2 separate regions of the Homo sapiens genome follow, and region 1 is linked to region 2. Evidence: fine-mapped QTL for protein levels in blood plasma. A gene starts in region 2. The other region holds a variant in brackets. All regions are shown on one strand. Distances are between the middles of the regions. Region 1 has its middle 7.2 kb from the start of PLA2G12A. Region 2 holds the start of CFI (complement factor I).

Evidence for each region. PIP is the posterior inclusion probability: the model's chance that the variant is causal. Protein levels are from antibody-based Olink assays in UK Biobank. Linkage for the fine-mapping came from a reference panel and not from the study's own genotypes, which makes the PIPs less certain.
Region 1: its variant is fine-mapped to the plasma level of the CFI protein (UK Biobank, PIP above 0.99).

Annotation. Positions count from the first base shown.
Region 1 is chr4:109,734,532-109,739,916 of GRCh38, forward strand. It overlaps a transcript of CFI not described here. Among named protein-coding and RNA genes, the nearest start is that of PLA2G12A, 7.2 kb to the left of the region's middle. The variant T/C (reference allele first, on the strand shown) is at 3,380.
Region 2 is chr4:109,799,554-109,804,938 of GRCh38, forward strand. It overlaps CFI (complement factor I), which reads right to left and starts at 2,446. Exons shown (of 13, transcript NM_000204.5): 1 at 2,362-2,446. The coding sequence starts at 2,418. LOC124900757 (a long non-coding RNA gene) reads left to right here and starts at 4,119. Exons shown (of 2, transcript XR_007058226.1): 1 at 4,119-4,282.

The sequences.
Region 1 (5,385 bases), 65 kb before region 2:
AGTGGCTCATGCCTGTAATTCTAGCACTTTGGGAGGCCAAGGCGGGCAGATCACACGGTCAGGAGTTCGAGACCAGCCTGGCCAATATGGTGAAATCCTGTCTCTACTAAAAATACAAAAAAATTACCTGGGCGTGGTGGCAGGTGCCTGTAATCCCAGCTACTCGGGAGGCTGAGGCAGGAGAATTGCTTGAACCTAGGAGGTGGAGGTTGCAGTGAGCTGAGATCGTGCCACTGCACTCCAGCCTGGGCAACAGAGCAACAGTCTGTCTAAGAAAAAAGAAAAGAAAAGAAATGCAATTACAGTGAATATCAAAATAAATTATGAAAATATAAAATATACTATATTTGTGCTTATTCTTGTCTGAATGATATATTAATAAATACCTTGGAATGGGAGATTCTGGGTGGCCAAGACTGGCTTTCTTTTCTTTTCTTTTTTCAGAGACAGAGTCTCATTCTGTCACCCAGGTGGGGGTAGCATGATCATAGCTCACTGTACCCTCGAACTCTTGGGCTTAAGCAATCCTCCTACTTCAGCCTCCTGAGTAGCTAGGAATACAGGTGTACACAACTGTGACTGGCTAATTTTTGTTATTGTTATTATAGAGATGGGGTCTCCCTGTGTTGCCCAGGCTGGTCTTGAATTCTTGGGCTCAAGTGATCCTCCTGCTTTGGCCTCCCAAAGTGCTGGAATTACAGTCATGAGCCACCGCACCCAGCCCTACACTATATTTTCTATATAGAACTTCCCAGAACAATAATCAGGATAGGCAGTCAGATCTCAGATCTCTTCTAGAAACACCAAATGGTTTCTTCTATATATATGAGCATCATGGAAAAACATGGTAGTATTGATGAGATGAGAATGCAAAATTTGTGGGGTTTAACGTACCACATTAACTTAGAATGCTTGGAAACTACAATATTACACAATGCTTTGTGTTATTTTAAATAACAAAAATCAATAAAATATTAATGATAAACAGCAATTTCTATTTTTTAGTATTTTCCAATGTCTCACTAATGGCCTCAGCAGTGTTGTGATGAAAATAAAAGCCACGTGGTGAAAACAGTTCCAGCCATAATGGTTAATTTTTGTCCAGGATGAAAATAAAAGCCACATGGTGAAGCAATTCCATCCATAATGATTAATCTATGGCTAGTGCCAATGTCGCGGGAATCAGGCGGATGAGAGAGACTTCGGGGTAAAGCAGGAGGATCTTTATTGAGTGTACTCAGACTTACATCTGGAAAACTGGGCCTAGAACAAAGACAGCACTTGACTTTTATACACACTTCAAAAAGGGAGTGGGCTAGCTTGAAGCAGGCTTACAGTTACAGTGGTGTGAAAGCAAGGATACAGAGGCAGAGCAATTAATCAAATTGTGACAGGTTCATAACTCAGGATTACACATGACCGTTGCTGTGCAACCCAGATGTCAGTTATCTAGGTTTTCCTTTAGTGCCTAGCACAGCTTATTCCATGACCTTCACTATGGCGTCCAGGTGGCTGTATCTCAGGCCTGCTCAGACAGTTTATGACCTTCACTCCACTACTTAGATAAAACAGAATGCTTGAAGTTGCTAGTTACAGAGAACAGAAATCTATAAACTCATACTATAAGAGAAAGGAAAATTTGTTTTTCTTCTCCTTATGTTGAGGGAGTGCTGGGAGAGTCTCCAGAGCACATTCCTTTGTGTCCTAGCTTCTTAGATAGTGTTTATCAAGACTCTTTTTCCTGGGTCTGGGCCTTGCCTGCTACTGCCTTTGGGATGAGTCAGCCTAATACAGGAAAGCTTACTTCTTTCTCTTTTTAATTTTATTTTTCTTTATTTCTTTAATTTCCCACCGCACCAAGGCTAGAAGTTTCATCTCTAAAAGGGAACTTAAGTTAAAGAGAAATAAGTACTAGGTTCCAGCCTTTGGCTAGAAAGTCAATGGCATTAATAGCTTTCAAGCTGGGACAAAGTGAAGGGCAAGAGATGGCTGCACCAGATCTATGAGCATGGGCTTGTTCCATAATATGTTGAAGACAATGATCCTCTGCTTGGGTATGGTGGGGGGTCTACCATCAAGAAAATTTGATCAAAAAGATATTTTCAAGGTATCTTTGTATGCACAATGTAAGATTGCTTGGCACACAGGAGGGATGGAAAGAACCCACTTAGTTGAGACTGCAGGGTTTTAAGCCATCAGGACAGAGTCCGTATGTAGTTCTTCTAATTAGGGTTCCTGGCTACTTCCAAACCTCTGGTTGATTTTCAGCTTCGTATTTCCTATCACGTACTGTACACCTTCACTGGGCTTCCTTAGACATCACAACTTCAAAATATCCCTAACTGTCTAAATCTGATTCCATTCCTCTACTTCCTTCCTTTCTGTACTCAGTGGCAACACCAATCACCTCACCATCTAAGAGACTGGGAATTATCCTAGTCTCAAATCCCTCTCCCTAGTACTGTAATCTATTTGTCCCCAAATGCCATCTATTTCACTCAACATATCTAGAGTCAGTGCCATCCTTTTTATCCCTGCTTTAGTTTCTACCTTCATTATTTTTCATTTGATTACTCCAAGAGTGTCTTAACCATCTTCCATACCCTCTCTCACCCACTTCCAATACATCTTCCTTGCTGTCTCCAGCTTGAACTTCCTAGAATCCTTTAATGGTCCAAACTCTTTGGTATGAGGCTCTCCCTGGTATGGCCTTTCCCCCTCTCCAGCTCCTTAGCTGCACCCTGGGCTCCAGTCACTATGAACTGCTCTCCATCCTTGTGTGTGGTTAGCTCCTCACACTGCAGGGCCTTTGCATTTGTATCTGCCTGGAAAGTTCTTCCATAATTCAGACTAAGCTCACCTCTGCAGAAGCCCTCTTTAATATGTCAGGCTGGTTTCTAGATCTCCCTTTAGTTTTCCTTACCATTGTACCTGGCAAGGTGCAGCCGCATAATTTATTTTCCCATTTCTCTTGTAAGACAGAGAGCTCTGAAACCAGGGTTAAATATAAGACGATGGCAGAGCTCCACATCCAATGAGTTGTGTCCCTGGCCACCTTCAGGCGAGCTCACAGAAGCAGCAATGTCCAGTGCCCAGGCTCTGCAGTACAAGCTGTACGTGGAGACTGGGACCCATGCTAGTGGCCATGGTAGTCTCTGATGGAGCAGTCCTGCAGTGTGGTCTGTGAGCGTTATTTCCAGATGTGTAGACTCCAATTCTCTGGCTCTTTTGGAAATTCTGTGAACTGCATAATATCTTTGAATAAATCTATTTTTTCATTAAACCAGTTAGATTGGCTTCTGTAGTCTGGAATTAGGAGCGCTGAGACAGACCTCTAAACTAGGAGAAGCTTGGAGTCAGGTCATCTCACTCCTGCTGT[T/C]CCTGGTCTCTGTCACATAGAGTCGCTTCAGAGGGCTGACTTTCACCCTTCAAGGCTTGACCCTGGTCTACTTTTCTGTGAAGCTGCCAGATGCTAGGTCACTGTGCAGACTGGCTTGGCCCTTTTGGGGGCCCCCTTCCTAGATTGGCTGAGGATGCCCTATATGCTGGGTTTCCCACCTTGTAGCACTGGAGTACTTTTCTTTTTTTTTTTTTTTTTTTTAAGACGAGGTCTTGATCTGTCACCCAGGCTGGAGTGCAGTGCTGCAATCACAGCTCACTGCATCCTCAACCTCCTGGGCTCAAATGATCCTCCCACCTCAGCCTTCCAAGTAGCAGGGGCTGCAGATGTGCACCACCACTCCCAGCTTTTTTTGTGTGTGATAGAGATGGGGTCTTGCTATGTTGCCCAGGCTGGTCTCAAACTTCTGACCTCAAATGATCCACCAACTTTGGTCTCCCAAAGTGCTGAGATTACAGGTATGATCCACTGCGCCCAGCCACTTTTCTCTTTTTATCTCATACACAGACATATTCTAAGGTGCTGCGTTGCTCCCGGATTGCTGAGTCAGGACAAGGTGGTTTTCAAATATGTCCATAAATTCTTTGATACACCTCCTCCCTGCCGCCATCAAGAGATGGGTTATTTCCTTTCCTTTGAGCCTGGGCAGGTCTTTGTGATGCTAAGGGACTTCCAAAGCTGGGTTAGAGAAGGCCATGCAGGTTCTGCAGTTTCTCTTGGGAGGCTCATCGGCTGCTATGTAGGAAGTCTGGTGCCCCCGGCCCTGCCATGTTAAGAGCCCATGGGGAGAGTGCAGAGAGACATATCTGAGAAGCCCCAGCTGTCTAAGTCCGCCCAGCCCAGGCACCAAACACATGAGTGAATAAGCCTTCGTGATAACTCTGGTCCAATCCTGTCTGACGGCAACAGCATGAGAGACTGGAAGGGGAACTTCCCAGCAATAAATAACCAAATACTTTCCTGAATTTAATGGATGAAAAATCTGGGCAGCATGGGAGGGAGGAGTGGTGAGTTATTGTTTAATAGATATGAAGTTTCAATTTGGGGAGATGAAAATTTTCTGCAGATGGATGGTGATAATGATTGTACAACAATGGGCATGTATTTAATGTCACTCAACTTTACACTTACAAATAGTTAAAATTGTTACTTTTATGTTATACATATTTTACCACAATTTTTAAAAGAAAATCTGGGCAGTAACTGATTTTGGAATATATGTAAAAATGGGTATTTATATTATTAAATCAGTAGGGATCTATCCAAGACTGGCCCTAAATAAAATAATAAAGGGAATATTTATGTGAAACATATATGTCTGTCTTCAGGATAAAGATAGCTGTGCTTAAAAAAAAAAAAAAGAGTAGCTAATGTTTATTCACTGAGCAGCCTCTATGAGGCAAGTGGTAGGGATGTAGCCAGAAGGAAGACAAATGAGGTCTCTCTTGTCATGTGTCTTATGTTGTAGTTGGAGGAGACAGTGTTGAGAAGAGGTAGACAACCCAATCAAAACAGAATACACTGGGGGAAGAAAAGTACTATGCTGAGATTAAAGTAGGTGGTGTGACAGAGGGAGACTGGGCACCTACAATAGCCTTGGGGTCGGGTGGGGGTGCTATTTTCTGTAGGTTAAGAAAGTGCAACTGTTGAGTTTGGGTTGACCACTTTTCTTTTGAAATGTTACTAGATATTCACATGGCAATGGTATATACTAGTGTTCAGTGGCATATACTAATCTGAGGTTCTAGGAAAGGTCAGAGCTGAAGATCCAGATTTGTGAGTCACCGGACTGTAGGCAGGATTTAAAACGTAGTCTAGATGAGATTACCAGGGAAAGGCAAAGTGAGAGAAGCAACCAGAAGGAAGAGGCTGAGAACAGCAGTGAGGGAGGAGTGTGATGCCCTGAGGGGCTAATGCTGCTGCGATGAGAACAGAAGTGACTGTGAGGTCTGACACCATGGAGGTAGGTGGTTGTATTGAATTAT
Region 2 (5,385 bases):
ATCTAAGATACATGAAGAAATTGTAAGTGGAAAGGCCACTTAGTGGTTGGTTTACAACAGTATTATAAGTGATAGGGTGATAGAAGTGTGGTAAGTGATTAGGATAATATTCTGCATAGTAAGAGAAACAGTTTGTATTTTTAGAAGAAAATTGCTTTAACATTTGCAAACTAAGGTAATGAGAATACAGTGAATTTCAAAATGTCTTTTTAATGACAATGTGTGAACTTGTTTTAATAAACCAAAATTTGTTGTTATTGTGTTAAGGCTATTTTATGTACTCAGATATCCTTCAAGACCACTGCCAAATTAGGGAGGGTATGGGGCAAGGACACAAAGGACAGACACGCAAAATGCTACTAAGCTTTCATACCATTTTTAGTTGCCTGTTCCTGCATTCAACATTTTCTTAGGTGCTATAAACCTTTGACTGTTTTCCAGAGTTCTAAATAAAGTTGGTTCTGACAGCTTCCCTTTGGTTTCTGTAGAAATGGATTTTTGGTTTTTGGTTTTGGTGGATCTGCCTACTCTGCCATTTCCGCTGCCATCACTTGCACTGCACACCCTCCTGTGTGCCACCCTTGTTTCCAGGATGTTGTCATTCTGCTTAACATTACCCCAGTTCTTTCTCTCTAAAATGCCACCCATATGTGCCTGAGTTTGTAATAAAATTTTAGGGTAAAATAAAATTTAGGGTATCAGTTGGTGATTACGTCACAGCACAATTATGGTAGGTAATCATGTTGACTGAAATATTTGGCTTCTCTGTTTTTTTTTTTTTTTTTTTTTTTTTTTTGAGACAGGATCTTGCTGTGTCACCCAGGCTGGAATACAGTGGCATGATCAGAGCTCCCCGCAGCCTCAAACTCCTGGGCTCAAGCAATCCTCTTGCCTCAGCCTCCCAAAGTACTGGGATTACATGCGTGAACCCCCACACCTAGTCAGCTTCCTTGTTGTTGAACATCCTCTGGTTATTCCCCCCATTAGAAGGCCCCAGCAGCCACTCCCACTGTGCTATGGGTTTCTTTTCCATCTTTTCTGAATCCCCTAGTTTCCTTGTCTGAGTAGGTTCAGTAAAACCGAAAACAGAAAATAGAATCACCAGTAATCTTATTAGCCAATGATAGCAACTATTAACTGTTTGATACATACACTGTAAGATCTTTTAGTCATATATATAAGTAGGTATAAGTATGCATTTATATATATGCATATAAACACACATACATATGTGTGTGTGTGTTTTTCTTCAATAAAAATAAAATTGTAGTAAGGACTTTTTATTTAGATAAATATGTCATTTCAATGGCTATGTAATAGTTCAATTTTGGATATACAATAATTTAACCAGTGTCTTATTAATAAGCATTTAGTTATTTCCATTTATTCTCTATTATAAACATTGCAATGATGGCAACTATTTTAGAAGTTACAAGAATCTTAAAGTGTGTTTTCTTAAGTAGTTTTCTTTAAATATTTTCTTCTACAAGCTGGCACTAAGACAAGATAGTTTTGGATTGCCACCAAAGTTGGCAATCATCAATAAGTATCCAAAATATTTTAAACATTTTTCACCTTAATAGATGACACTCTAACTTCAATAAAATATGTCATTTCAGTTTCGAGTTCCTTTGTAGCCCACAAAGCCTTCATTCTGATCAAATGGATTCATTTATTTGGAGGGGCCTAGTGCATTGCTGCCTTCCTATGGTAGCACTTGCTGCTTTTCCTGGCTAAAGAAGCTGGAAATCACTCCTCTTTCTCACCACTGATCACATGTAATACAGAATTAAACGTTCAGCTCAAATCCTACTTGATCTATAATCTCTTCATGACCTCTCAGCATGAAGTGATTTGTCCTCTCATTGAAGTCCTTTACCACATATTTGTATCACTTTTGACAATTAAATATATACTGTCTTGTAACTTGCACTTTTGTGTTTTCAGATGTTTCAAATTTGCTTATTATTTCCCCTTTCTATAACTATAGAGCGTACTAAGAGGCTGTTGAAGGAAGAGATCAGTCTCACTGTCTTCGTAGCACTGTACCTTACACACAGGAGGAGCCTGGTAAATATTTTTGATTTACTACAATTACAGTAAATCACAGCCTTGTATTAGTAAAATTCTTGTTCAGTTCAATGCCTCTGCATATATAAGCACATAAAAAGAACTATTTTTAAAAAATCACTTTTATCAAGATATTAACATAAAACATTTGTTGCTGACTATAGAGTGGCATTGTTGTAACTGAACTATGTAATATTTAAATCAAAATTATATATTTAAGATTATTTTCTATGTTTTTACAACCTTTAAATTATCAATTAAAATTGTTTGCATAAAGGTTGAATTACTTACCTTGCAAAACCTTAAGTGGAAGCACAGAAATAACAGGAAAACATGAAGAAGCTTCATGTTGGAGGTGTTCGGGGTCTTTGTCTCTGCTGAGAACTCTTTTCCACTCCAGGTATTCTTTTGAAATTTAATTTTTAACCTCTGAAAAAATGTTTCAAAAGAACAAACCTCCTAAAGAGCTTTGTACTTTTGAACTCTGAAAGAATTTGGCTGAAATCCAGAGAGATTTACCGTAACTGAAACCAAAAAATGGCCTTCCCATTAAAGAGCTGAGGGAGGTGACCAATAGGAACTTGTTTCCACCAGAAGAGACTGATTTCCTCCCACCCTGTTAATTGCAATGACTCAATTCTGTATTCCAGGGAAGACAGAAATTATATTGGAAGCAATTTTTTGGTTTTTTTTTTGTACAGTAAAAATATAATTTTTTAAACTTAAGGTTGAAGACTAGGAGACAGTAAGAATAAAAGTAGACCATATAGTGAAGGCTGCAAAATACATTTAAAACTCTAGAAACCAGCTTCTTTACCATGCATTTGTTGTGCTGTGATCAAATTGTATTTTTGGAGTACAAGAAATTTTAAAAACAAGTATTCTTGTGCCAGTACCAACTATCATGCAGGGTTTATCTATTTATGAAATAAATCTGTGATAGCAGAAATGCTGACACAGTTGGGTTCATCAGAAGCAGACTTGAGACAGTGAGTGTGGGGCACAAGTGTTTGTTAGGGATCGATATCCATACAAGGAAGGGAGGGGAAGCAGGGGTGAACAGAGGTAGAAGTTGAACTGGAGTGAGTGTGACCTGTCACAGTGCCCCTGATTTCAGTATAAATGGCTGGGCCATTATATTCTGCCTTGCTTGGTCCCCTACTATATATTGCCCAGGAAGGGCATACACTTAGGTGAGACAGTTTTCTGTAGCTAAGGCAGACACAGAAGGATCTGACAGTTATGTGCTATCAGGAGGAGGTATCTTCTGACTACACTCTTTACAGCCAGGTAGCAAGACCTTCCTTGACAAGGGTTCTGGGAAACTCATCTCTGTGTCTTTCAGAGTACATACTTGCACCTCTTAGATCTATGTTCCATATACACTCCAGGAGTGGCTCCTTAAACATTTCAGTGGGTCCCTATTCTTGAGAGAAAACTTAGAAGAGGAAGTTAATGGGAAAAACTACAGCTCCTACCCTTGCAGTTGATCTTGGGGCTGTAGTTGAAACTTACCCTTGGCCCCCTTCCTATCCATTTTAGATTCCCTTTACCTTGACCTCCCACCTCTGCTGGTCTCGGTGACTTACTGGATGACATGTCCCACACTCTCTTTCAGGAGTGGTCTGAGCCCCTGGTTACCTTTTGTTTCTCAGGCAAAAGTTGCCATTTTTATCCCTACTGTCACAAGAGGCAGGCTGGACATGGTGGCTCACTCCTGTAATCCCAGCACTTTGGGAGGTCAAGGCAGGAGGATTGCTTGAGGCCAGGAGTTTGAGATGAGCCTGGGCAACACAGGGAGAGGTTGAGGCTGCAGTTAGCCATGATTGCACCACTGCACTCTAGCCTAAGTGACAAAGAGAGACCCTCTCTTAAAAAAGAAACCAAAAAAAGCAAAAAATAAGAGGTACCCCAGTAGGTTATGTGGGTTCTACACATCTTCCTCCCTGCCCACATTATAGTAATAGCAGCCCTACTTCCTCGGAATGATCAGGGCCAATTACCCTTGTGGATTCTGACTCTTTCTTGCTAGTTCCTAGACACAAAGAGCCCAGCGTACCCCAGGCAACAGCTCTGGTTTATAATTCCATGGGACTCTTGCTTGCCCCTGGTGAAAGTATAGTCCTTTGGAGACCAAGATAACGAACCCTGCAGAGTCTACAACTGTGGAGACAAGATGCACAAAGCCCCCAGTTGGTCAATGGTGGTGATGGTAAGTGTGGTAATTCTTGCCTTTATTCCTTGGTTCCCAGACCCAGGTATTCTTCCTATTGGGAACATAATGCTATATGAAAGTCTTTGATTGAATGTATATACTGCTTCCTGGAGGATAGCACCCCATTCTCACAAAGTTTTGCATTTAACTGGCACCTCAGCTCTGTCCTCAGCAGCCCATTATAACATTCTGTAAGTCCACCAGCTTCTGAGTGGTGTGGTATGTGATATGACCAGGGGATTGCATGATCACAGGCCCACTCCTGGGCCTGCTTTGCTGTAAAGTGGGCACCCTTGTCTGGCAGGATGTGATCTTTGCTAGATAATTAAGCACTCTATAATTCTCTGGATTATGGTGCTAATGGAGGCCCTGCAGGCAAGAAAGGCACACTCATACCTCAAATATGTCTATTCCTGTAAGAATAGACCACTGACCCTCCAAAGAGTGAAAGAATCAGATGTAATTAATTTGCCACTAAGTGACTAGTTGGTCTCCTTGAGGAATTGTGCCATCTTGTGGGGACAGTATTAGTGTCAGCTGCTGTCAGGTTGGGCATTTGTTAATGATGGGAGCTAGATAAGCCTCGGGGTCTGTGCTATTGGCCTCATGGGTGGCCTCTATCTCTGTTACCACGGTCACTTCATTCTTGTGCCCATCGTGCCAGCAGTGGGGTGGCTGATGACTGAGACTCAGTCATTTTGGCTCAATCGTTTTGTTGAGCCAAACTGGTTGAGCCATTTTGTTGGTTATTTAGTGCCTTTTCTTTGGTGGATGCTTTCTAGTAGGCATTAACATGTGATACAAAGATTTTTTTTCCTTTTTCTTTTTTCTCTCTCTCTTTTTTTTTTTTTTTTCTGAGACAGTGTCTCGCTCTGTCACCCAGGTTAGAGTGCAGTGGCGTGATCTCGGCTCACTGCAAGCTCCGACTCCCGGGTTCATGCCATTCTCCTGCCTCAGCCTCCTGAGTAGCTGGGACTACAGGCGCCCGCCATGACGCCCGGCTAATGTTTTGTATTTTTAGTAGAGATGAGGTTTCACTGTGTTAGCCAGGATGGTCTTGATCTCCTGACCTTGTGATCTACCTGCCTCGGCCTCCCAAA